Linked DNA regions of Homo sapiens. The protein of the gene in region 3 purifies or fractionates together with the protein of the main gene of each other region. This does not show direct contact. Each region holds a gene or a part of one and is shown on either strand. Other genes may lie near its edges. The genes, in order: FMN2, RAP1GDS1, APBB2, GOPC, TBC1D4, AKAP1 and SYDE2.

The links.
Region 1: the proteins of APBB2 (region 3) and FMN2 purify together in Homo sapiens (affinity purification with mass spectrometry; 3 studies listed by BioGRID and IntAct, with this or other methods). This does not show direct contact.
Region 2: the proteins of APBB2 (region 3) and RAP1GDS1 purify together in Homo sapiens (affinity purification with mass spectrometry; 4 studies listed by BioGRID and IntAct, with this or other methods). This does not show direct contact.
Region 4: the proteins of APBB2 (region 3) and GOPC purify together in Homo sapiens (affinity purification with mass spectrometry; 3 studies listed by BioGRID and IntAct, with this or other methods). This does not show direct contact.
Region 5: the proteins of APBB2 (region 3) and TBC1D4 purify together in Homo sapiens (affinity purification with mass spectrometry; 3 studies listed by BioGRID and IntAct, with this or other methods). This does not show direct contact.
Region 6: the proteins of APBB2 (region 3) and AKAP1 purify together in Homo sapiens (affinity purification with mass spectrometry; 4 studies listed by BioGRID and IntAct, with this or other methods). This does not show direct contact.
Region 7: the proteins of APBB2 (region 3) and SYDE2 purify together in Homo sapiens (affinity purification with mass spectrometry; 3 studies listed by BioGRID and IntAct, with this or other methods). This does not show direct contact.

What each region holds. Positions count from the first base shown.
Region 1 is NC_000001.11:240,090,604-240,094,682, reverse strand, and holds the start of FMN2 (formin-2), read right to left. Parts: upstream 2,801-4,079; 5' UTR 2,574-2,800; coding exon 959-2,573; intron 1-958. UniProt on the Homo sapiens protein: Actin-binding protein that is involved in actin cytoskeleton assembly and reorganization. Acts as an actin nucleation factor and promotes assembly of actin filaments together with SPIRE1 and SPIRE2.
Region 2 is NC_000004.12:98,267,884-98,271,383, reverse strand, and holds part of RAP1GDS1 (rap1 GTPase-GDP dissociation stimulator 1), read right to left. Parts: intron 1-3,500. UniProt on the Homo sapiens protein: Acts as a GEF (guanine nucleotide exchange factor) for the Rho family of small GTP-binding proteins (G proteins) that stimulates the dissociation of GDP to enable subsequent binding of GTP.
Region 3 is NC_000004.12:41,008,543-41,012,042, forward strand, and holds part of APBB2 (amyloid beta precursor protein binding family B member 2), read right to left. Parts: intron 1-3,500. UniProt on the Homo sapiens protein: Plays a role in the maintenance of lens transparency, and may also play a role in muscle cell strength. Involved in hippocampal neurite branching and neuromuscular junction formation, as a result plays a role in spatial memory functioning.
Region 4 is NC_000006.12:117,571,512-117,575,011, reverse strand, and holds part of GOPC (Golgi-associated PDZ and coiled-coil motif-containing protein), read left to right. Parts: intron 1-1,379; coding exon 1,380-1,545; intron 1,546-3,500.
Region 5 is NC_000013.11:75,475,670-75,479,169, reverse strand, and holds part of TBC1D4 (TBC1 domain family member 4), read left to right. Parts: intron 1-3,500.
Region 6 is NC_000017.11:57,083,966-57,088,045, forward strand, and holds the start of AKAP1 (A-kinase anchor protein 1, mitochondrial precursor), read left to right. Parts: upstream 1-1,280; 5' UTR 1,281-1,433; intron 1,434-1,790; exon of another isoform or gene 1,791-2,109; intron 2,110-2,407; exon of another isoform or gene 2,408-2,572; intron 2,573-4,080.
Region 7 is NC_000001.11:85,194,517-85,198,016, reverse strand, and holds part of SYDE2 (rho GTPase-activating protein SYDE2), read left to right. Parts: exon of another isoform or gene 1-381; intron 382-3,500.

The DNA.
Region 1 (4,079 bases), on a different chromosome or scaffold from region 3:
TTCATTAAATTCTAACACTCTATTTCATTTAATAATTAAGAATAGAGGTTAGGTAAACATGTTGGGCTCTTAAGGTAAGGCCTTGGGCCCTGTAAGCCTGTAAGCTAGGATAAACTCATTGGACTGCTTGACACTGACCAGAGCAAACATACTCTGGCTGTGCTTTATGCCGCCCTGGGTATGAGTCTATAACATATGCTAGGGAGGGGAGGTACCAGTTGGACTAGACGTGCTTTTGACCTTTCCACCTTCACTGTCTCCAAACTACAGGCTGTTCTGGGCTGGACCATGAAACTGAATGAAAATTATCCCTACTATTCTATTTATTTATTAATTTTCTAATAGCATGTATCGGATTTTCTTGCAGCAGCAAACAGCAGTGAGTGACCGCTTAACTTCACTAAGCAGCGGAACCCAGACTGCTGCAAGATAGAAACTACATATCACATACATACCAAACGTGGACAAATACACACAGCTATGAGAGCGGTCAGAGACTGCCTTTGGATCGTACCGGAATAAATGATTTGTGCCTCCAAAACCGACTCTTGCGAAAGAACCATGAACAATTTTTTTTCTTTTTAATGCTGTGGTGATGAAAAATGAAAGAGAAGAATGATGGTTTAGCTAACGAGACGAAAAAGGAGTTTATCTCCCTGGCGTGACCCGAAACTTTGTGAATAGCAGGTATTTTGGTGAAATGGGCAGAGCAACTTAGGACAGACACAACTAAGTTGTTCCCTTTAAGATCTTGTAAGAACACAGAAAACCAACAAGTATGTCCAAGTCATTTCACCGTGGGGGGTGAGCTCGCTGGGCGGAAAAGGATTCCCTACGGAGAAGAGATGTGCCACTACCAGGTCACCGCCTTCCAGAGCCCAGGGAGGGCGGGTGGCAGGGGAAGGCCCTGACTGACAGGCGACTTGAGACCCGGAGGCCAGCAGCAGGGCGCGCTCACCTGTGAACACGTTCTGGAAGCCATCCGCAGCCGCGGGGGCCCCAGACGCCTTGGCGGCCAGTGCTGGGGACACCCCACCGCCGCTGTCACTCGCCACCCCGCGCTCCAGCAGGTGCGCGGAGCCTCCCACCCGGGGCGTGCGGGCGCCTAGCTCCTCCGTCCAGTCAGCCGAGCGGCTCAGGCCGGCCGCAAGGCCGCCGTCGGCCCGGTGCTTCTTGGCCGGGGCGGCTACGGAGGCCAGGGCAGTTCTGGACCCTCGGCTCAGGGAGGGTTCCGGCCGCCTCTTGATCCTGGGGCTCTGATTAGGGGACTGAGACGGGGAGTGATTGGGCGAGCTGAGCTGCCGGGTGGTGGTCTTGATGTAGCAGGGGGTGATGAGCGGGTAGGGCTTGAAACAGCGCTGGCTAGGCGCGGGGCTGCCGGGCAGGGAAGCGGCCGCGGGGGCGTCAGGTCCTTGCGCCTCCTCCTCCGGCTCTTCCCCCAGCCTCTGCGGGGCGTCCTCTCCCACCTCCGGGGCCCACTCCTCCCCCGGAGAGCCCCGGGGCGCATCCTCAAAAGCATCCTCCTCACCCTCCTCATCCGTGTCCCCAGCCCCTCGCACGGGGGCTCCGGCCGCTTCCTCCCCCGGCCCGGCCTCGGGAAATGGGAAAGCCGTGGAGGAGGGCGAGTCTTTGGCCGCGGGTTGCGCTGCCGGGAGACTGGGCGCCTCGGAGACCGGGAGGCCGCCGGGGGACGGCGGTTGCTGGGGCTCCCGGGGCTCGGCGGCCAGGCTCTCGGGCAGGTCGGAGAGCGCGGACAGCGCCTGCTCGGTGTCCGGACTGCCCGGGGCCTCCCCAGCCCCGCCGCTCGGCCCCAGCAGGAACCGGTCCAGGCCCAGGAAGGCCCCGGGCTGAGGGGAGACGGCAGTGGGGGGCGCTGCAGGCTCCTCGGCGCCCTGGAGCTGCTGCTGCTGCTGCTGTTGCTGGAGCTGGAGCTGGAGCTGCTGCTGCTGCTGCTGCTGCAGGCGGATCGCCTGCTGGATGTCTGAAAGCAAATCCTCTTGCTCCGTAGCCGAATGGAAGCTATAGATGTCCGTGTCCGAGCCCGAGCTGGTCCTTTGTCCATCCTGCGCCCCTGCTGCAGTTTCCACATCCTCGGCGATCGGCCGGCCCCCGACCCTAGCCTCGGCAGGCCCAGGACCCCCTGGACCGGTCACCTCAAAAGGGTCCGCACACTCGGTATCCGACAGGCCGGCCTCGTCCGCCGAGAGGCTGAGGTCTGGAGTCTTGGTGAGCAGGGAGTGAGCGCTGTCCAGCTCCCCGGTCTGCAGGGCCTGGGAATCCAGTACATCTTCGCGGGAGCCGCCGGCGCCTTTCCCCTTGGACAGATTCTTCCTGATCCGCAGGTTGGAAAACACCGAGGCTCTGGAGTCGGACTTGCTCTTCTTCTTGCCCGACTCCCCGCCGCCGCCGCCGCCCCCTCCCCCCTTGCCGTGCTTGCCTAGCGCCTTCTTGCCCCCGCTCCCCTTCTTTGTGGCTTCCACATCCCTGGGCCCCAGCGCATCCTCGGCGCCACCGCCGCCTTCGTGCAAAGCATCACCTGCGCTCCTCTTCAGCTTCCCATCCTGGTTCCCCATGGTGCAATCCCGCTGCTGCGCCGCCGCGCCGCGGGCACTCAGGCCATCCCGGCCCTCCTCGGCCCCAGGTCCGGGCCTAGGGAGTCTCCCGGGAGAGTCAGGCGGCGGCGGGGGGAGCCGCTGGGAGGGGAGGCCGACGCGCGCCCGGCTGGCCCCGCTCGCATCTGCCGCCGCTTTGCATAATGCGCGGCGGCTCCCGTGGCTGCCGTCGCTGCGGCTGCGGCTGCGGCTAGGGGCCGGCGGGGCGCGAACATGCTCAGTGCAGAGCGCGGCGCCCACCAATGGCTGCGCAGAACGCAGCTCGGGCCTGGCTCCCCGCCCGCCGCCGCCGCCCCCTCTGCCCCCGCGCGGCTCCTCGCTGAACCTGGGCGCGAAAAACGTTTCCTCTATCTCGGGGACTTTAATCTCCACCGTGCGAATCGAATGCATTGTCCCCGACCGAAGAGATCGTCAGCTGGAAGATGCACTCTGATCTTCAAAGCTGCTGGACCTGCCAAGAGAAAAGTTAAATAAAAAAGAAGAAATTTTTACACGGAGAAAAACTGAAGCCCAATTCCAGTTTAGAGGTGCCATCGGGTCACAGCCACATACACAACCCCCTGTCTGCCTCTGCATGGCTGTTCAATAAATATTTGTTGAATGAATGGATTGTTCTGTTTCTTGAATAATTGATCATCTAATTGAACACTGTTAATGTGCTTGAGCATATGGTTTAGGAGAGGTTACTACACATGGTGCTGCTTTTATGTTTCACACACAGACCCTGCTTCTCCAGGAGAGGACATTAGCTGTCATTTATAAAATTGGTTTGTGATTTTTTTGTTGTTGTTGACAGAAGGAGAGGTAGGAGAAGTAGAAAATACTGAGATTAGTGTTGATTAAAATGCTAGTCTCCAAATTCTATGTGTTTACCATATAAATTAAACAGCATTTGTATTCAAAAAGGGTGCATATACGATAACTCCCAGGAGGTCAAACTCATCAATATTAAACATGTCACTATTGTGGCTGCCTATAAAAAGGAAAAAGACAGAAAGGAAACACCCTTGGCACAAACACACAAAATCAGATGTTATGCTATAAACTACCACTTTCCCAAGCAAACCCTTCCAGGCAGACTTCGTCCTGTAAAAGTTTCTTAACGTTCTGGCCACAATATGGGGATAAACATTTTTCCTCATTGAATATTTTGTCATTGTTTTCATTATTTATTAAATTTAGTTACCTATTTTTTAAGAATAGTTTTTTTAAAAAAATATGGATATCTAAAGCTTTAAGCAGTAAACTGAGATTAAAGTGGCATTAATAAGTTTTACAAGTATTTAAGTAAAAGTCATTGATAACCACTTTGAAAATATGGAATAGACATCCAACTTATTAATATTTTCAAAATAACCCAGAGGAGGGAGAAAAGCTATATATTATACTGTGCAACTTAAATGTAGCAAGCAAATGTGTAGTCTTCCTTTGCATATTATGAACCAGCCTTTAAAATTCTTTTTTAAA
Region 2 (3,500 bases), about 57 Mb from region 3:
TTTGGAGAAAGGCGTTTAGTTAAACATTTACCAGCACCCCTCTAATTATCATTATTAAAAATTATAAAATGAGTTTTATTTTGAACTCAATGAGTTTAATTAGTAGAGATGTCTACTAATCTGCTAAATACAAAGATGTAGCCCAGATATTAATAAATATATTTCAGTACCAATAAGTACCTAAAGTCATTTTGTGAACAAAAAGGACTTTGGAATTAACAAGTACTGTTGACCCTTGAACAATGCAGGCACTAGGGGTACCAATCCCCCTCTCACTCAGTCAAAAATCCACACATAACTTTTAACTCCCTAAAACCTTAATAGCCTAATGCTGACCAGAAGCCTTACCAATAACATAAACAGTCAATTAACACATATTATGTATGTTATATGCATCATATACCATATGCATCAAATACCATATTGTTACAATAAGGTAAGCTAGAGAAAAGAAAATGGAAGGAAGAGAAAATGTATTTACTGTTCATTACATGGGAAGTGGGTCATCATAAAGGTCTTCATCCTTATTATAGTCACTCTTGAGTAGGCTGAGAAGAGGAGGGGTTCATCTAGCTGTCTCAGGTGTGGCAGAGGTGGAGGAGGTAAAAGGGGAGGCAGGAGAGGCAACTCACTTGGTATAGCTTTTATTGAAAAAAAAAAATCCACATGGAAGTGGAACTGCGCTGTTCAAATCCATGTTATTCAACGGTCAACTGTACAGCCAATCATAGCTAAGAGCTCAATTTAACCACTTCCATTTATCACTAACCTAGTCCTTGGTTTTAACTCCTGAAATGCTTCTAGTTACAAAAGCTATATAAATAGAAGCACTGAGAGAATTATTTCACCTGCAATTTGAATCCAGCATCCATATCTTAGCCAGCTTGAGAAATGTTTTTTTAGGTCATTTATTCAGACAAAGCTAAAGTTGGTTCAAACCCTTAAGTTGCTACCTCAAGTATACATTACCATTTGAACACTAAAGAAAAACAAGTTATATAGAGGTTATATTTAAGATACCAATGATATGGAGTATATTTCAAACTTCAGTTTCAAGGAATCACAGGCTTTTATAACTGAAATAGTCTTTATAACTATATGGTTTGAATGTTTTTGTCCCCTCCAAAACTCATGTTGAAACTTAAACACAACAGTACTGGAAGGTAATGGGAGGTGTTTAGGTTATGATGGCTCTGCCCTCATAAATAGATTAATGGCATTATAAAAAGAGCTTACCAGAGTGGATTTTCTCTTTTGCTTTTCTGTTGTGTGAGGGCACAAGGTTTCTCCTCTTTGGAGGACACAGCAACTAGGCCTCATCTTGAAACCAAAGACCAAACCTGCAGGCACTTTGATCTTGTAGTTACCAGACTCCAGAACTCTGATAGAATAAATTTCTGTTCTTTATATATTACCCAGTCTGCAGTATTCTGTCATAGCAGCACAAAATGGACTGAGACAATAACCTATTCTAATATATTCATTTATTATTTACATCTAGGTAAATACAGATTGAGTATCCCTTATGCAAAATGCTTTAGACCAGAAGTGTTTCAGATTTTGAAATTATTCAGATTTTGGAATACATGCATGATACTAACTGGTTTAACATCCCTAATCCAAAAATCTGAAACCAAAAATCCAAATGCTGCAATGTGCATTTCCTTTGAGTGTCATGTCAGCATTCAAAAAGTTTCAGATTTTGAAGCATTTCAGATTTTGAATTAGGGATCCTCAACCTGTATTTTTATTTTATTTTAGCTACTGAGTTGTATGAGTTCCTGATTATTTTTACGTGTTAACCCCTAATCGGATATACGGCTTGCAAATATTTCCCCTCATTATGTAAGCTGCCTTTTCATTTTGTTGTTTCCTTTGCTACAGAGAAACTTATTAATTTGATGAAGTCCCATTTGTTTATTTTTGCTTTTGTTGCCTGTGCTTTTGGTGCCATAAACAAAAAATCATTGCCAACACCAATCTTATGGAGCTTCTCTCCAGTATTTTCTTGCGCGCATCTTATGCTTTTCAAATTCAAATCTTTTGTTTAAATCTCTGACCCATTTTGAGCTGATTTTTGTATATGGGATGAATAAGGATCCAATGTCATTCTTCAGTATGTGGGTATCTAGTTTTAACAACAGTGTTTATTGAAGAGATTGTCCTGTCCCCATTGTGTTTCCTTGGCTTTTTTTTTTTTTTTTTTTTTTGAAGATCAATTGACTGTAAATTCTTGGGTTTATTTCTGGCCTCTCTATTCTGTTCCATTGATCTATGTGTCTGCTTTTATGCCAGTACCATACTGTTTTGATCACTACAGCTTTGTAACATGACTTGAAGCATGTAGTGTGATGCCCCTGGCCTTGTTCTTCTTGCTCAAGATTATTCTGGCTATTCAGATCTTTTGTGGTTCCATACAAATTTTAGAATTGTTTTGCTATTTCTGTGAAAAGTTTCACTGGAATTTTGATAGGGATTACATTGAATCTGTAGATCACTTTCAGTACTATGAACATTGTAACAATATTAATTCTTCCAATTTATGAATATGGGATATCTGTTAATTTTTCAAATTCTTTCATCAATGTCTTACAGTTTTCAGCATAGAGATCTTTCACCTTCTTGGTTAAATCTATTCCTAAATATTTTATATTTTTGCAGCTACTGTAAATAGGATTGTTTTCTTGATTACATCCTCAGAAAGTTTGCTGTTAGTGTATAGAAATGCTTCTGATTTTTCTATGCTGATTTTGTATCCTGAAACTTTACTGAATTCATTTATTAGGACTAATAGTTTTTGTCTTTTTTTTCAAGGAGTCTTTAAGGCTTTCTATGTATAAGACCATGCTATCTTTAAACAGATCATTTTACTCTCCAATTTGAATGCTTTTTAATTTCTTTTTCTTGTCTATTTGCTCTGCTAGGACTTCTAGTACTATCTTAAATAGCAGTGGCAAGAGTGGGCATCCTTGTTTTTTTTCTCAATCTGAGATAAACTTTTCAGATTTTCACCATTAAGTATGATGTTAGCTATGGGCTTGTCATATAGGACCTTTACTATGTTTAGGCATATTCATTCTACACCAAATTTGTTGAGAGTTTTAAAAATGAAAGTATGTTGAATTTTGTCAAATGCTTTTTCTGCATCAACTGAGATGATCGTATGATTTTTGTTCTTCATTCTGTTAACGTGGTGTATCACATTTATTGATTTGTGTATGTTCAACCATTCTTGCATCCCAGGGATAAATCCCACTTGATCATGACGTATGATCCTCTTAATGTGATGAGACTGCAAATCAAACCACAATGAGACACCATTTCACACCAGTCAGAATGGCTATTATTAAAAAGTAAAAACAAACAAACAAAAAACAGATGCTGTAAGGCTGTGGAGAAAAGAGAATGTTTTTACACTGTTAGTGGAAATATAAATTAGTTCAGACACTGTGGAACGCAATTTGGAGACTTCTCGACGAACTTAAAACAGAACTACCATT
Region 3 (3,500 bases):
AGAAAGTCGTAACTCAGAGTCCAAAATATAGGTAATTCATAATTAAGAGAAAAGCAAACTTTTATAACACACCACTGTACTGATACTGTCTCTAATATAATAATCATGAATATTCATTGAGCTCTTGCTATATGCCAGATACTGCTCCTAAAAGCTCTTTGAAGATGCTCTCGCTTAATCTTCACAGCAGGTCTATGCCAAAACACTCTTATCCCCATTTTATAGATGAGAGGCTATGAGAACTGCCTAGATATAGCAGAGCTGGGATTTGAACTCAGGAAGCTCACTCTAGAGCCTATGCTCTTAATGATAAGTTAATGGATCATGAGGCGCATTGCCACACCCATCTAGACTTGGGACTTGGTTTTCTCTGTGTATAATTCTGCTTTTGTACACTTTAGCAATGAATCTGATTTTGAAACAGTTACTACACAAGATCCATCTAGTTTCATACTCTGTGTCTTCAATTTTATTAAATCCCAAACTAAACATAAAATTACATGTGGGTACCACTGAAACCTGTACCCAGGAAGGTTCAAAATGATGCATCTTTTCAACGTTTTCATAAAGCAAACATGAAACACTAAGTGATTAACAGAGAGACTATATACAGTGTGACCAACAGGTATTTATTTATCTGAGCCATCATGCTTACTACCTGGGGCCACTGAGGGAACTGTATCTTTGAAAAAAACCCTAACTAGATTCAAAGTTCTCACTTTGCAGTAGCAAGATACAACCTTTCTTTTAGAATCAGGGCCAAGGCACTCTTTAACTTTTCTAAACTCCTATGAAAATAGTCATTTCACAGATGCTTTTCCTTTTTCAAATAGCCTCTTGTTTTCTTAAAGGACAGACTACAGAGGAGGAAAAGGGCAGCCACATATTGTATACATGATTGATTGTACAAAAAGAAGTTACTAAACAGCTGGAGGGGGCGATTCAGTAGTAAAGGAAAATAGAAAGTAGTCAGTCTCTAGGTTAGCCATTGCATTTTATTGTATAAATAGCATTCTAACTTGGAAAGGATGCCCCTGAGGTAGAAATGAGTCTATTTTTCTAGGCTCCCCAAAGTGCAGTCTACGATCCAAAGATAATTGCATCATGATTTAGTCATAAAACACACACCACTGTGATGACTATGTATTTAACACACAGCAAGTCAACAGACAACTATACCCTTTTTATACATGTACTATGGCATGGCATACTAAGATGTCACAAGATATTTGCTCTCGTTTTCTCTTTTCTTTCAACTGTTGGTATTTGTGTTTATTTTATATATATACACATACACATGTATATACTATATAAAACATACATAATAAACACTAACTTTATCATTACAAGTGAAACATACAATGTTTAATTTAGACTGATCATGATTATTTTAAACACTAACAGTATGTTTCACAGGAAGGATGAAATCAAAAGAAATACAATGCTAAAAAACTGCTTATTTTATTTCATTCACCAATCTATGTATTACCTGAAACCTGAAGTGTGATTAAAGCAAAGTGATTTCATTTCATGGGGATCCACAGCAGACTCTGAGGCAATTCCAAAAGAGGACTCCCAAAATTATGACTATTAATATTGAGACAGTGCAACATGCTGAAGCAGGTGCAGAGATCCCAAGTGAACATTTTGAAGGCTGGCATAGGTTTGGCTTCTAGTATATTTTTTAAAAACACAATCTCATTGCTTTTCGGTCACAGCTAATACATTTTTTCGAGCATATTTGATTTGAAATACCTATCCTCAGCAACTTATCAAGGGCCACCATCATCCTGTCAAAACCAACTTTCAGAGAGAAAACTAAGCATATCTTCTTAACATGTAAAAAAAACTCTAATCCAGTTCTCATCACAGGCCAAGCACTGTAAGATGTTCTGTGGAAACCCAACAGCAAGTAATGTCAGGACACTGAGCAAATGAGTGGTAAGTGTCACAGCAGAGGGGCCCCTGAAAGTCTTCCTGGAAAGAGGGAGTTAACGTGTACATTTCAAGAGTCCCAGTAGGTAGACTGGAGTGCACAAACTTTGCCCTCTCCACAGGCCCCTACTGACACCAGCACTCAATAAGCCAAGGGGCTATGGACAGAAATACCTAAATACTCATCAGCAGGGAACTTGCTAAATAAATCGTGGAACTTGTATATAGTGGAATAGTATACATAATACTTAAAAAGACTGACGTAGAAAAATGGACTGATCTACAAAATACGTTCTTACGTGAAAAAAAGCAAAGCATTCATAAAACAATCTAATTGGAGTAACTTTTTCCTGGTTTTAACTATTTATTGTGGCAAATTTTAAACATACAAAATTAGAGAATAGAATAATGAACCCGCACGTACCCATAATGCAGCTTTAACAATCAGCAGCTTATGGGCAATTTTGTTTCTTTTTTTATCCTTCTAATCCCAATTATTTTGGAGAAAATACCATACACAATATTGTTTCCATCAGTATGTGTTATACTGTATTATATATGTTATACTATGACATAGATTAGTATTTTATATTAGTATATATCTCTAAAACATAGGGATTCTAAAAACATCATCACAACATTTGGGTAAATTTTAAAATTGATTATTATTGTTTTTTTTTTTAATTTTAATTTAATTTAATTTTATTTTTAAATTTCTTTTGAGATGGAGTCTCGCTCTGTTGCCCAGGCTGGAGTGCAGTGGCACAATCTCGGTTCACTGCAACCTCTGTCTCCCAGGTTCAAGCAATTCTTCTGCCTCAGCCTCCCGAGTAGCTGGGACTACAGGCACGCACCACCACACCAAGCTAATTTTTGTACTTTTAGTAGAGACAGGGTTTCACGATATTGGTCAGGCTGGCCTTGAACTCCTGACCTGGTGATCCACTGCGCCTGGCCTAATTTTTATTTTTTGAGATGGAGTCTCGCCTGTCACCCAGGCTAGAGTGCAGTGGCGGGATCTTGGCTCACTGCAACTTCCGCCTCATAGGTTCAAGCAATTCTTGTGCCTCAGCCTCCCAGGTAGCTGGGACTACAGCCACCCGCCACCATGCCTGGCTAATTTTTAATGTTTTAGTAGAGAAGGGGTTTCACCATGTTGCCCAGGCTGGTCTCAAATTCCTGAGCTCAGGCCATCTCTCCACCTTGGCCTTCCAAAGTGCTGGGATTACAGGCGTGAGCCATCATGCCGGTCTTAAAATTTATTATTAATATGCGGATCTATGACTCAAACATTTTCTGAGAGGAAATAAAAACATAAGGTAATGGTCATCACTGGGAAAGGGGGCTGGGGTGAAGGGAAGAGGCAGCTTAATTATTCATTTAAAAATACATTTATGTTTTTTGAAACAGAGTCTCGCTCGATCACCCAGGCTACAGGGCAATGGCATAATCATGGTTAACTGCAGCCTCGAACTCCTGGTGTCAAGTGATCCTCCTGCCTCAGCCTCCTGAGTAGCTGGAACTACAGGCACATGCCACCGTCCACCATGCCCAACTAATTTTTT
Region 4 (3,500 bases), on a different chromosome or scaffold from region 3:
TGCCTCCTGGGTTCAAGCGATTCTCCTACCTCAGCCTCCTGAGTAGCTGGGATTACAGGTGCCTGCCACCACGGCCAGCTAAATTTTGTATTTTTAGTAGAGATGGGGTTTCACCATGTTGGCCAGGCTGGTCTCAAACTCCTGACCTTGTGATCCATCCACCTTGGCCTCCCAAAGTGCTGGGATTACAGGTGTGAGCCACCGCACCTGGCCTACTCTTTTTTCTTATGGTAAATGAAGCATTAATCTTTTTCCTCAGAATTATTTTACAGTTGGTTTTAACTTACTGTTGTTAAATTAATACTGACAGCATTATGTATCGCAGATCTAGTTATCCATACTAAATATGTTTAGTTTACACACACAAACACTGATAGTATCTTACTGTGAAATGCTAACAACTCTGTAGAGCAGCACTTTTCAACTATTTTGTGCCTTGAGACCAGTACAGCCGATATTCACATGCATAGCAGAACTTCCATAAGGAATTCTTTTTATGATCACTGAAACCCAGTCTTTCTTGCCCTTCAAAAAAACGTGTTGGTATTTAGTTAATGACAATGATTTTATCATAATCATACACAGAATTCTGCTGTATTTATTAAGTAAATTATTAACAAACTTTGGTGACTTATTAGTACTAAATCATTTTGTGCATATTCTTTTAATGTCACATTAAAAACATGGAACAAAGAAAAAATAATTTATATCATCTTGAAGTACAAATTTTCTAGTAACTTTTTTTTTTTTTTAAATTTTGTGAGATGGGGTCTCACTCTGTCGCTCAGGATGGAGTGCAGTGGTGCAACGTTGGCTCACTGCAGCGTCCACCTTTCAGGCTCAAGTGATCCTCCCACCTCAGCCTTCCAAGTAGCTGAGACCACAGGCATGCCACCATGCCTGGTTAATTGTTAAGGTTTTGCCTTGTTGCCCTGGCTGGTTCTAGTAACTTTTAACCACATTTAAAGTAATCATTTTGTGAAAAGAAACTCTAATTAGAAGAAATATTTTTGTCCATTTATCTCATCTAAAAGCTAACATTTAATAGTATCTGAGTTCAGTGACTTTGCATGCAAGACATAGATTGACATTAATCTCATAAATTTTTTTTTAGATTTATTTGAATTAAGTATATGACTAAAGGAGTTCACATTAATTCCTTTAAAAATTTTTTTTACTGGTTTTTCCCTTGAGGATACCTGTTCTTTTCAGAGTTTTCATATTTTTTTTATATCTGAGAGACATCAAGAAGTTCGTGAGTATTAGTTTTATCACTAATTTGAGATTCATGCAAAAGCTACTTATGTTCACTAATTTTCCTGAATTCTCACTGTAGTGAATATAATGAAAAATCAATGTACTCTTTTCCCAATATGAAGGGTCCAACAGATACAATTGCTAGGACGAGATATGAAGGGACCTGCTCATGATAAGCTTTGGAACCAATTAGAAGCTGAAATACATTTGCATCGTCACAAAACTGTGATCCGAGCCTGCAGAGGACGTAATGACTTGAAACGACCAATGCAAGCACCACCAGGCCATGTATGTTTGCTTTGCTGCTGCTTCCCACCCAGCCTCTTCTTTCTTTCTTTAATCACAGTTGCTTTCCATTCTTTCCTTTATTCTAGTATTGTTTGAAACCTTTATTTAAAAGTGAAAATGGGATTCAACTTATTCAAAGTAGATGAAGTTTCAACACCCATAGAAATTTTAGTAGCTCTTCACAGACTTACTAATGCCCTGAGAGTGCTGCAGACAGTGAGCCATTGTTAGCAAATGCATATTGCTATAATGTTGGATCATATTTCCAGTTTTTCCTGGATCATGATTGGGCATGCTTGAATTTGTTTTAATCTTAGCTTAGAGTGTGTGGTCATATTGATAATTTGGCAGATATTTTGGGGTAGTTCTTTAAGGGAACTTTTAGTAACTGAATCCAAATGTAGATTCTGAACTAACATTTACACCTGTTTGGTCTTGGATTAAGATAGAATTTGAGATCTGTAGCCAGTTGTCTGCTTCTGTAGCCACCATTATATAAAAGCTTCTATCTGGATAAATCTTTATTGAATTTTATCATAACAGCTGCTTGATAATATAGACCTTAATATATGAAAGCATGTCTCCCAAGGGTTCACATATCTTAGTACCAGATAATGTATGGCCTTAAATAGTAAAATAGTTTGTTGGCTCTGCAAAGATTTTTGTAAGAAGAATTGGTATGTAAATAGAGTTGGTGGAAGAGAAGTGGGGATAGCGATAAGCACTTATGCCATTGTTTTCTAGGGCACTGGTGGTTCCCATTAACTTCTAGGTCCAGTAGATTTGGGAAATGGAGCGGTTAGGAGGAAGACAAAGTAGTTTGTATCAGATGTGTCTGAGTGATAAAAGCATGCTTGTTAAATTAGCTAAATATGAGGTTGGGGTTTTAGGTAGTGGCTGGATTATAGAAATTATTTTATACTAAATAGAGGAATTTTAACTTTAACCTGATAATCATGGAAGTTTTAAATAAAATGGCAGACTTCATAAAATTTACATTTTTTAATAGTTATTTTGGTATAGTGAAGAGGACCAAGTTGGAGTCAAGGAGATATATTAGAAAGATACTATGGTCATCCAAGGAGAAAGTGATGAGGTCAGGAGAAGTGGCATTTGAGAAGAAGGATAGATTTGAGAGGATTATAATCAGGAGGGCTTGATTGGTGACTAACTGCTTTTGGTTAAATAGTGAAAAAGAAGAGTCTGGGCTTTTAGTTTGAGCAACTGAGTGAGATCTGGCATTCACTGGGAAGGGAAATAGAAGAAAAGGAAGGATTTGGGGAAAAGATGATGAGATCAGTTTTAGACAAGTAGTGTTTGAGGTGACAATGGGGTATCCAAGATACATCCAACTGGACATATGACTCTGGATTTCAGAAGAGAAATCTGTTTTGAAGAAATATTAGGGAAACTATCCTTCTATTATACTTGAAACCTTGGAACTCATTAAGCCTGTTCCAAGTATATATGTATATATAAAGTATATATGTAGTAAAAAGAATAGGAGGCCAAGGATAGAAACTTATGGAGTGGGAGAAGGAAAAGGATCACTAAAGGAAGGAGCCTGGGATGGAGCTGTCAGATACAGGCCATCTAGGAAAGTAGTGTAATAAAAACTAACAGAGAGAGTGGGTTTCAAGGAGGGGTTGATGAACAGTATCAACTTTCTGCAAGTTTGAAGTAGGATAGTGACAAAAAGTGTTAATTGTGTGTAACAATATTGATTACTGGTGACCACAGAAAAGAAAATTCCAGTTGTGCATGTAGGGGCAAAACTCTAATTACAGAGACCAGAGGACTGAATGTGAGTGGCAAGGAAGTAGATATGATGAGGATGAACTTCGTGTAGAGGTTAAGGAAAGGGGGAGGATGGTAGTTGCTAAGGAAGATAGTGAAGGATTGAAAGGTTTTTTGTTTTGTTTTGCATTTGCACATGATCAGTATTTTAAAACTGG
Region 5 (3,500 bases), on a different chromosome or scaffold from region 3:
AAACTCAAATAACAAAGAAGAGGGTTGAGTGAGGACCATGGAGGACTGGATAGTGGGTGGCCTTTCTCAAGGTGCTACTTAGCTCCACTTGGAAATTGCATGAATAGGATGCAAGTCTAGCGTTGCTAGAGCTGCTGATTTCCCAAGAGAGAGTGGAAATCTGAATTTTTATATATGACCCCGCATTTTAAAGTACTGGCAAATATTGTAAACATTTAAGAATCCTATCTGGGCCAAACAATACACATCTGAGAGATGGCTTTAGAGATCCATGAGCGGCCACTTTTGATCTTTGGCATAAATATTTGTTGAGTGGACAAGCGCAGTCATTGACACTATGTGCTGTTTGCTGTATTTCCTTTAGAGCATCCAGGTTCATTTGATATGGCTGTCATAGTAGGGGAAGCTGGGACCATCCTTTTTGAAGAATTTAGCAGAAAAATTCCCAGAAGTGTTGATTCTGCAGCTAGACATGTTAAAGGGGTCAGTTCAACATATTATCATCCAGCAGTATGCTTCATGCAGAGTTGGCTGTGGATAGTTCTAGGGACCCTTGAAATCAGAAGGAAGACCTGCTGTTTGCTTTGTTCTGAGTTCTATATTTGAAGTGGAGAATTATTTATTTGGACTTAAGATCATTGTTAAGAGAGTCTCCTAAGTGTTTCCCTCAGTCCTCGACAGAGTCTATAAAGTCTACAAACGTAGCCTAGAGCAGTAGACCTGCAAACATCCCCTAACATACTTGTCTGTGGTTTGTCTGTCATGCCTATTCCTTTAATGCAATGGCCCTATCTGTTGGATGACCGTATACTTTATTGTTTGATATGGGACAATTTTATTGTCAAAAGGGGCACCACTAATAATTATACAAGCACTGTGAGTAATAAACCTGGACTGTTGAGGACAAACCGAGATATATGGTCACCATGGCAAAGTTTGTGTTCATGCAGAGCCACCGAGTTGGAGGATTGTGGTTACTAATATAAAATGATAATGTTTTCAAGAGTATCTACTCACATATTGGAGTTGGATCTACATTTGACCTTAGAGCTGGGAGTGCTGTACTAATCGCTTGGGGGTCTGTTGTGGGGAGTTGCCACAGTGATGTGTTCCCTCTTGGCTCCACACCTCCCTTTGGGTCAGAGTCAATTTAAGGATGTGTGTCAGGAGAAGCATTCAACCAGAATGGCTCAATGCACCACTGTTTCTCCAAGGTGCAAAGAGAAATGGAGATGGGGGTGAAATGTATGCCAATGCAGATCTGTCTCTAGTCAAGCCTATGTAGTCTTATACAGGAGGAATGTCAGGCTTAGCACATTTCAGCTAAACTTGAATATTTGAACTGGGAAAAGGGCTTAATCCCATTGGCATGAAGTGAATTACAGACTTAAACTGATTGGGGAAACAAGAATATCTGATTCTCTCCCAAAGGTCTAGGATAGGTCACTAATACTCTGTAAATATTTATCCACTTGCAAAAAGAGTCTGTATGGCATTACCCAAATTTTTCTGTTAAAAAGTTATTTTATGTTATACATACATTACTACAATAAAAAATAAAGCAGGAGTTGTTATTGAAAATATGAGACTTTGTTATGTTAATTTTTAATTAACATTTGCCTGTGAGTTTTGAAGCATCATTATGTTTTATAATTATAGGATGAACAATCATTTAAAAGGTAAAAACATGATTGTTATAATGTTTATTGGTTGTTTTTGTGTATTATTTACTGAAGCTTGCAAGAATGATTTTAAAGAGACTTTACAAATTGTGTTCTTAAGATTAAAAAAAGGAATTTAATGCCAGTGTTTTCCCAACTCTCAGTTCTCTTAAAAACGTGTATTACTATCTGAGCTTTATTCACGTAACCAGTTTTTTTGTCAATATATTTTTAGAAGGTCATTTTTCAGTTCTTTTTCAAAGTTGATGGTTAGTAGCTTTGAGAATATACTAGTAAGAATACCAGAGAAATTGAAACCTGGAAGATTTCACCTCTCTGTGCTTTCTAAGAAGTTTGTTCTGTGGACAGATAGATCTATCTCTTTTTTTGTAATCATTTTTTATTCTCTCTCCTCCTTGCAGTCTGAAGTGGAGGTTAATTTGCCTTGGCTCTGTGGTAGAATCTTGACTGCAATATCTGGCGGAAAGGCACAAACATAGCCCAGAGACTCCCAGCCACAATGGAGCACATTATGATAGGAGCCCTAAGCTGAAAATTGAAGGTGTTCAGTGTCAGGGCTTGATTATCAGAAACCAGAGATTCTCAAACTTCAGTGTGTGTGTCAGAATTACCTAGAGGGCTTCTTAAAAGAGACCACTGGACCCTACCCTCAATTTCTGATTTAACAAGTTCTCTGGTGATGCTCAAACTACTGGCCGGGTGACCACAGTTTTAGAAACCCTGTGCTAAGTTATTTGGTTCATTTGGTTGGCTGTATGACCATTTCTGTTCCCCTGGATATTTTTGTAGTCTTTCTCAGACTTGAAAGTTCAAGTGGAATGTGAGGAGAAATAATATTTGACTCTGGAATATTTTTAAGAAGCTCTTCATCTTCTAGCTTAATGATTTGCCTGTCCTTTCCCTGATATAGACATTATTCTGCCAGACATCATAAGACCATGCAAATGTTGAATGAAAACTTTGCCTTTCAGCCAAAAGTTTTAAGTTCTGCAGGTGGAATAAACAGTTCATTTTGAGGGGAATACAGATAACCTAAAAATCTGAAGTCCAAAGTGTTTTAACGTCAGAAACGTTTTGAGCATCAACATGACACTACAGGTGGAAAATTCTTCACCTGATTTCATGAGATCACAGTCAAAACACACAAAATTATTAAACATATTGTATAAAATTACCTTGAGGCTATGTGTATAAGGTGTATAGAAACACAAATGAAGTTTTTTTGTTGTTGTTGTTTATTTTTTTGAGGTGGAGTCTCGCACTGTCGCCCAGGCTGGAGTGCAGTGGCGCGATCTCGGCTCACTGCAACCTCCACCTCTCAGGTTCAAGTGATTCTCCTGCCTCAGCCACCCAAGTAGCTGGGATTATAGGAGTGCACCACCACGCCCAGCTAATTTTTGTATTTTTAGTAGAGACGGGGTTTCACCATATTGGCCAGGCTGGTCTCAAACTCCTGACCTCAAGTGATCTGCCCGCCTGGGCCTCCCAAAGTGCTGGGATTACAGGTATGAGCCTCTGCACCCAGCCAGAAACATAAATGAATTTTATACTTAGACTTGGGTCTCATCCTTAAGATATCTCATTATGTATATGCAAATATTCCAAAATCTGAAAAAAAAATTCAAAATCTGAAACACTTCTGTTCCCAAGTATGTTGGATAAGTGATACGCAACCCATATATCCTAATTTCAGATTATGATAGTTTTTGAAAAAATTAAAGCTTGATTTACAGCCTGAGAAATAACACCATTCAGTAAGGCAGAGACTGTTCACATGCCCTTTTCTCATTTTGGAATGAGTAATTGCTTGGTGAGGAA
Region 6 (4,080 bases), on a different chromosome or scaffold from region 3:
CCTGTAATCCCAGCACTTTGGGAGGCCAAGGCGGGCGGATCACGACGTCAGGAGATCGAAACCATCCTAGCTAACACGGTGAAACCCCATCTCTACTAAAAATACAAAAAATTAGCCGGGCGTGGTGGCAGGCGCCTGTAGTCCCAGCTACTCGGGAGGCTGAGGCAGGAGAATGGCGTGAACCTGGGAGGCGGAGCTTGCAGTGAGCCGAGATCGTGCCACTGCACTCCAGCCTGGGCGACAGAGCAAGACTCCGTCTCACAAAAAAAAAAAAATAAAAAATAGGGCTCTTTTTCTTTCTTTCCTATGTCAGTTTCCTATTTGTTTCCTTCCTGACATCTACCACACCATGCAATTGGGATTCATATATATATGAATTTGACTTAAATCTCATTAGGTATAGTAAATGGCATCTGTCATTTAAACTTGCATTTGATCACTAGTGAAGATTAAGCATTTTCCCAAGTAATTGTTAGTTCTTAGCATGATCTATTTTCTATATTTTGGCCAAACAAATGTTCATTTAAAGTCACTTTGTTTTAAGGATGACAGCAGGGCTGGACAGCCAAAACCCTACCCTCTCCATTTATTTTGGAGGAATTTATTTTCCCAAGGTCCTGGCAGAGATAGTGACTCACCGTGACTATCTCTGCAAAAATCATTCCAAAACCCACACCAATTCAGAGAAAAGTGCTTCATTTCGATAACATCGACTTGTGAAAACGAGCAAGAAAGTTGCATTTGAGTGGTACCAGGTTTCACCATTATGCAGTTATCGAGCAATTATTAATGGCCAACCCAATTATACGCTACAAGGAAATGACGGTCACAGGGAAGCTCAAAGCCCCGAAGCGAGGGAAGCCCTGCTCCTCACCGGCCCCTCCGCCTTTTCCAGGGCGCTCTCCGTCCCGAGGCAGGAGATGGCCTGGTTGACCCTTCGAGACAAGGCGGCAAAACCGGTGCTGGGCTTGCGGGGCAGGGAATCAAGGTTCCTCCGGTTGCTGTACCGTCCCGCCCGGCCCCTCTCCCGGGCACCGGAGAGATGACGGCTCTCTCGCGAGAGCGCGAGCAAGACCCGGCTCCGGGCGGCGGCGGGATGTTAGCCCAGCGCTGTAGACCGCGCCCCCTCTGGCGCAGCTGGGAGAGGCGCGGCGGAGGCACTGCCGGGAGCGGCCGGCGGCGCGCACGCGCAGGTGAGCGGGGCGGGCTCGGGAGCGCGCGGGCACAAGGGCGAGGGGCGGGGCCTGCGTCGCGCTGCGGGCACGTCGCCGCGCGTCTTCAGTATTTAATGTCTCTGTGTTCCACCCGCCTGGGCTAGCACGTGGGGGAGCTGCGGAAGCGCGGCGCTGCGGGCCGGGCCGCGGGGCACAGCCGGGGGCCGGCGGCGGCGCGCGGACTCCGCATCCCGCACCCCGATGGTAGCCGAGGAGCTGGTAGGTCGGGGGCAGCTGCGCCGGGGACCCCCTGCCGGAGACCCGAAGGCGGCGGGGTCGGGGCGATGGGGAGCCTGAGGTGCAGGTGCAGGGTGCGACGCGCCCTCCAGGTACCCCGGGGGCGGGACGCTCCGGACGCAGAGGTGTCCTGGGGGCTCTCGGCCGCCGCGCGCTGTCAGGCAGGCCCATCTTTCCCTCCCTCGTCTGCGCCCCCTCTCGTCCTTCCCCGCCGGTTGTCTGCCCGCGGGCTCCTGACAGATCGCGTGTGCGCGGCTCTGGGCGGCGCTCTGCGGCCGCGCCGTCCTCCCCACGCGCGTCACTGTCCTCGGGGGCGGGGGGCGAGGGCGCGACGCCCGGGTCGCCTCTCTGCACCTCAACTTAACCGGAGCGTGCACACCCGCCTGCGAGGCTGACCCGAGCGCGTCCCACCCAAGGTCGCCCAGCCCCGCGGGCGTTTACTTTTCAAAGGTCGTGTGTACACAGTCTGAGCCGGAGCTGCCCCTTCACTTCTGGAGCCTCGCCCAACTTCTCACCCTCGGCTCGCCCGCCGGCGCAGCCCCTGGGAGTTCCGTGCGGCGAGCCAGGGGAACTGGGAAGATGGGCCGGGACATCGGCCGGTTGTGATCCAACCGTGTTTCGGGCTGAGGGACCGTTCGAACCGAATTGGGGTCTGGAGGTCGGAGGCTCAGGGGCGTCTCGGGGGGAATTTGCATTCGTAGCCCCTGCAGGCGTGTCCGGAGGGGTGGAGGCCGTCCAGCCTGGGGTGTCTGCCGACCTCACGCCCGGGGGCCCCGACGGTCACGTGTCCGGCCCCGCCTGCGGCCCAGGGCCCGGGGTCTGCGATCTGGAGGGACCGCGCCAGTTTTGGGGTTACGATGTGCTAGGAGAGGCAGTGGCTGGATGCCTCGAACGCGGGCTTTCTGGCGTTCAACTCTTTTGTGCCCTAGCTGAAGGTCTTCCTGTTTCCCTTCCAGGGAGGGATAGGAGAAGAAAGGTGCTGATCGTGGTAGGCGGTGCTGTGGCGACTCGGAACGGCATGGGAGCCCTGGGCGTTTCGGGATCTTCCTCTCCTGGGGGATGTCCTGGGTGGCGGCGCCTTCCTGCCGCCGTTAACACAAACCCGGTGGACTTCGCTCCAGGTGCGAGTCGAGGCCTCTCAAGCTGGGTAGGGTGTATGCGCAGGGCAATTAGTGAGGTTAACCTGGGTATCTTTCCCCTACTGTAGTGCGCGTTACTTCGTGTTTAGATTTGTCTCCAGTGAAATCTAGGCTGCTGGACCTGGTGCAACAGTATCTGTTAGTTACTGATCAAGGAACACCGTTCACAAAAAGCTATTAATTCTGGCAACTAGTAGCCTTACAAGCTCTTGTAACTGCTAAGTCCTTCCCAAATTAGTACCTTTTTTTTTTTTAACTCTTTATTTAGAAAGCAAAGCTTGGACTCTTAGCACCACCCATCCACTTTGCTCTTAAAGGTACAGAACATCTTTGAAATGAAGAAGGCTGCCTGACTTGATCATTTATATAATTCCTCTGATCTTGGCATTGAAGTGGTTCACCTGCTGATTATTTAAGACCCTGAGCACTGGAAGCAAGTGAAGTTATGTTTTGGGAACCTTTTGACTTGTGTTGAACTTTTCTTTAACCTCTAACTAGTTTTGTAGGTTCTGCATAATTCTTGGGTGTATTCTCTTTGAAATATGGCCCTAGGTTAGAGGAGGTCCTCTGGATCCTACAGGCATGCAAATCACTAAAGCTTGAGTCCATTACTGGATTAATAGGCTCTGTCTTCATGCATGTTGTCAGATGATGGCTCAGAACTTGCAGGTAACAGATCCTAGCCAATGAGTGAGACAGGTCTAATGGATTTGTGTCTAGGTCTAGTTCCTTGTAGGAATATCTCTCCCATCTCCCAGTTGTTTCTAGGAAATGCATTCTCACTTGGCCACTGCAGGGTGACAGTGGAGGTGTCTGTTGTAAGTGGCCTGCTCAGGTGCTGAAGTCGATATGTCTCCAGTGTAAGGTTGCTGAACATCAATATTTAAAAGCAATTTATCTTGCTGCCTGGTAACCCAAATTATTCTTGAGCTTTGGACATAGGCTGGGTTGCAGCCATATTTTAGGGGAAGGCTGGTGTTAGCCTCTACAGTATTCCCTTTTCCTGTCCTAAAGACAAATGGAGATCATATTTGTGATACTGGGGACTGTGATAGGTGCTTAAGCATTGCTCTTCCCCTCTCCTCCCTGAACAATCCCTGAGACTGACTTTGTTTCTCTTGAATTACTTGAGTGACTTGAATTCTATTAAAAGCACCCCTCTCCTTAGCCTCTGACCCAGAAGCTTGTTTGGGAGGAAAAACGAATTGGTTTCCCTAAGCTTTGCTGGCTAGCCTCCTGCTCCCAGCCTGCAACATGACTTGATTGTGTGTGCATTTCAGGGCTTTGAAGAGCAGGCAGCTTGTAGCCAATGTACCCAGAGAGCTGGCCGTAGAGTTCCCCTAGGTCACTCCTTCCTAATCTTCCCTGTGAGTCTGAATGATTGGGCCTTTCTGTAGCTTGGTCTGTTTTCCTATTGTGGGGAAGTCAGTTGTTTCAGGTATGAGTTAATACCTTCAGCTTGTCATTCTCAGGCGTTTTCTTCCACTATG
Region 7 (3,500 bases), on a different chromosome or scaffold from region 3:
AGTTGCAAAGAAGATGGGAGAATCTTAGGCCGGGTTTAAAGACATTTTAAAAAGTAATTGCTGGGCCGGGCGCAGTGGCTCATGCCTGTAATCCCAGCACTTTGGGAGGCCGAGGCGGGCGGATCACGAGGTCAGGAGATCGAGACCATCCTGGCTAATACTGTGAAACCCCGTCTCTACTAAGAATACAAAAAATTAGCCGGGCGTGGTGGTGGGTGCCTGTAGTCCCAGCTACTCGGGAGGCTGAGGCAGGAGAATGGCGTGAACCTGGGAGGCGGAGCTTGCAGTGAGCCAAGATCGTGTCACTGCACTCTAGCCTGGGAGACAGAGTGAGACTCCGTCTCAAAAAAATAAATAAATAAATAAATAAAATTTAAAAAAGCATTTGCTGTATTCATTTTAAACTTTTACCTTTAAATATTTACTTACTTGAAATTGATGTCACTTGACTTCTACTTTTAAATCATGTTTTCTGCAAAACTTATTTGGAGCGGTCTAGATGAACCAGTACATTCTTGTTTATGTAAAGATGTTAAATATCCTAAAAGGTTTATAGCACATTTTTCTGTACAGTATTATTCATAAGATATTTTGTCAAAATTACATTTAGAATTTGTAATACAGAATAATTATTCAGTGGAATGGAGATACTTCATATAGGTATTGTGAAAATTTTTGAGACTATATGACAAATGGAAACACAAATGATTTTCTATTTTGATTTCTGGCTCCTACTAAGAACTTTTGATAGTATTATAATGACAAATGATTTGATGCAGTTAAGTATGTAGTGTTCGCAGATTGGCCGAATTGTTCCTAATTGAGATGATTATTTCAGAAATCTAAAGTCATTACACATAATAAAAATTGTCAAGTTTCTGCAAGCCTTAAGATTACAAAGGAATCTTAATGTGTTTGCCAACTATACATCATTATAAATCTTTATAAATAAGTTTTAATTAGCATATAGTTTTCAGAAACAAATTCAAAAGCACCTTTTATTGCTTTAAAAAATAATTAGCCTACTTTGACTCCACTTTTCCTGCTACATGGTCTGGGAAAGAAAAAACTTTAGACTGTATAACTTAGTATTTTGTCTAAAATTTTTAGACAATTATTTTAAGGTAGTATTAATTAGTTTGGTATGATCTTTAACCATCTTAAAGTGAAGTTGACACTATGACTTGATTCCCATCTACTTTTCTCAAGTATTTGTAACTCTGATTTTTTATCTTTATGAATTGCATAATCTTTATGAATTTTTCCAACAATTTTTTTCTGTATTTGCCCTTTTCAAGGTGAGTAGCAATAGTTATATAGTTTTTGACAGTCTTCTAATTTTAAATCTCTTCCTGAGAGATTCTGCTATTGTGGTGCTAGAAAGCAAGTGCAGTTGCTTTTTTTTTTTTTCTTTTTCTGGAAGAGTGTCATGGAACATTGGAGTTGCTGGTGGCTGGAAAACTTCAAGAATTACAAATTCAGCAGAAAACAGTGTTGTGTTGATTTGAAAGTCCTACATTTCTAGACCAGTGGCTCCCAAGAAATGCTGTGTTTAAGAAGGCTGTTTGCTAGACCTTTGCCACTCAAAATGTGGTTCAATGTTTTAGAGCAGTGCTTTTCAAACTTAATGTCCATATGAATTCCCTGGAAATTTTGTTGAAATGCAGATTCTATAGGTGTGGGGTGGGACCTGAGATTCTGCTCCCAGTGTAGATGCTGCTGTCTGGTGTACCGTACTTTTGAATAGTAAGCTTCTAGAGCTCTCACATCCCCGAAGTTTTACAAAAAATTCTACCTTATTCTGATACTTGGTACTTAAACTACCCCTATTAGAGCAAAGCACTTGGGCTCTTTTTGCTTCAGTTTTATGTATATGAATTAATATACTTACTACTTATATATTACACATTTGAGCAGTTCCCTCTATATTGGCCTCATCTTGCTTAACTAACAAGTATTAGTGAGATTTTGGAAATGCAAGAGAGGAGGCCGTATAGGACAATGGTTAACAGAATAGAGATTCTGGGTTTCTGGTCAGACTCTACCACTTACCAGGCTTGTGACCTTGGATAAGTTACTCAACCTTGTGTAGCCTCAGTCCTCAGGTTGCTGTGAGGATGAAAAGAGATAATCCATTTGGTGCTGTGCCTAGCACTTACTTGTTATTATCAAGGGGAAGGCAAGCAGGCTTTGTGAGAATACTGCTTTGCCTCAGATCATTAGGATTCTAGATGGAGAGTGAAAAGGTCGAAGTTGAGGAGTACTGCCTTGAGGAGCACTGGGAATTGAGCTAGAGGACACCTTTTTGGGGTATTTATTTATTCTGCTCATCTTTTGTGCTCCTTTCTTTTGCTGCTCCCTGTTACTTTTGTGGAACTGAAAACGGTCTCAGAGTTTTCTTCTCTACTTTCCCGTCTCAAAAGCTAACACACAGCTTTTTTTTTTCTTTAGGGTTTTTATTGCTAGCCACAAGGGAATGAAAATAAAAAAGGTGCTTCTTTCCTTTTCATTCCATCCCTCTCCTCCTTTTAGATTTGTCTAGGAAAGATAAAGATACACACACACATATACACACACAGAAACTTAAGACTTAAGTTTATTCTAGTAATTTCATCTGGACTGCCAAGTTTGACTCTAAGCAGGGGATACTTGTACTTATTTAGAAACAGGATTTTAATAAATATTAAAATGTTTAATGCTTTTAAAACAGATTTAAACATCTAATACAGTGTTCATAAGATACTTTTATTTGGGATTTTTAAAGAGAAGTAAGGAAAAGCAAGAGAGTTTATTTCTGCAGAATTTTTAAAATGATGAAAAGATGTCTCTCTAGATACTACACATTTTTTTTTTTTTTTAGATGGAGTCTAGCTCTGTTGCCCAGCCTGGAGTGCAGTGGCGTGATCTCGGCTCAATGCAAGCTCTGCCTCGCGGGTTCACGCCATTCTCCTGCCTCAGCCTCCCGAGTAGCTGGGACTACAGGCGCCCGCCACCATGCTCGGCTAATTTTTTGGATTTTTAGTAGAGACAGGGTTTCACCGTGTTAGCCAGGATGGTCTCGATCTCCTGACCTCGTGATCCGCCCGCCTTGGCCTCCCAAAGTGCTGGGATTACAGGCGTGAGCCACCGCGCCCAGCCGGTACTACAGATTTTCAATGAGGGTTGAAATATATAATTTCTTGGAAAATTTGCTGATGGCATTTGAGCTGGGGGCACTAGTTAAATGTTCAGTAAGTAATCTAGATTTATTATGAAATAATAGTTGAGAAAACAGAATTGACTTGGGTAGTTCACCACTGTGTGGAATATTTTTCTGAGTGAAAAACTTTTAATTGCCATTTCTTTCTTCTCTTACAGATTCAAAGTAAAATTACTTTAATTAGAATCTGAAAATTATCCCATAACATGTATAGTTGCAAGAGACTAAGGACTTTTTTTGCCTTGTAACTTTGCATACTTATTTTTATATTTTTAGTTGGACCTTCTTTCAATATGTGTGT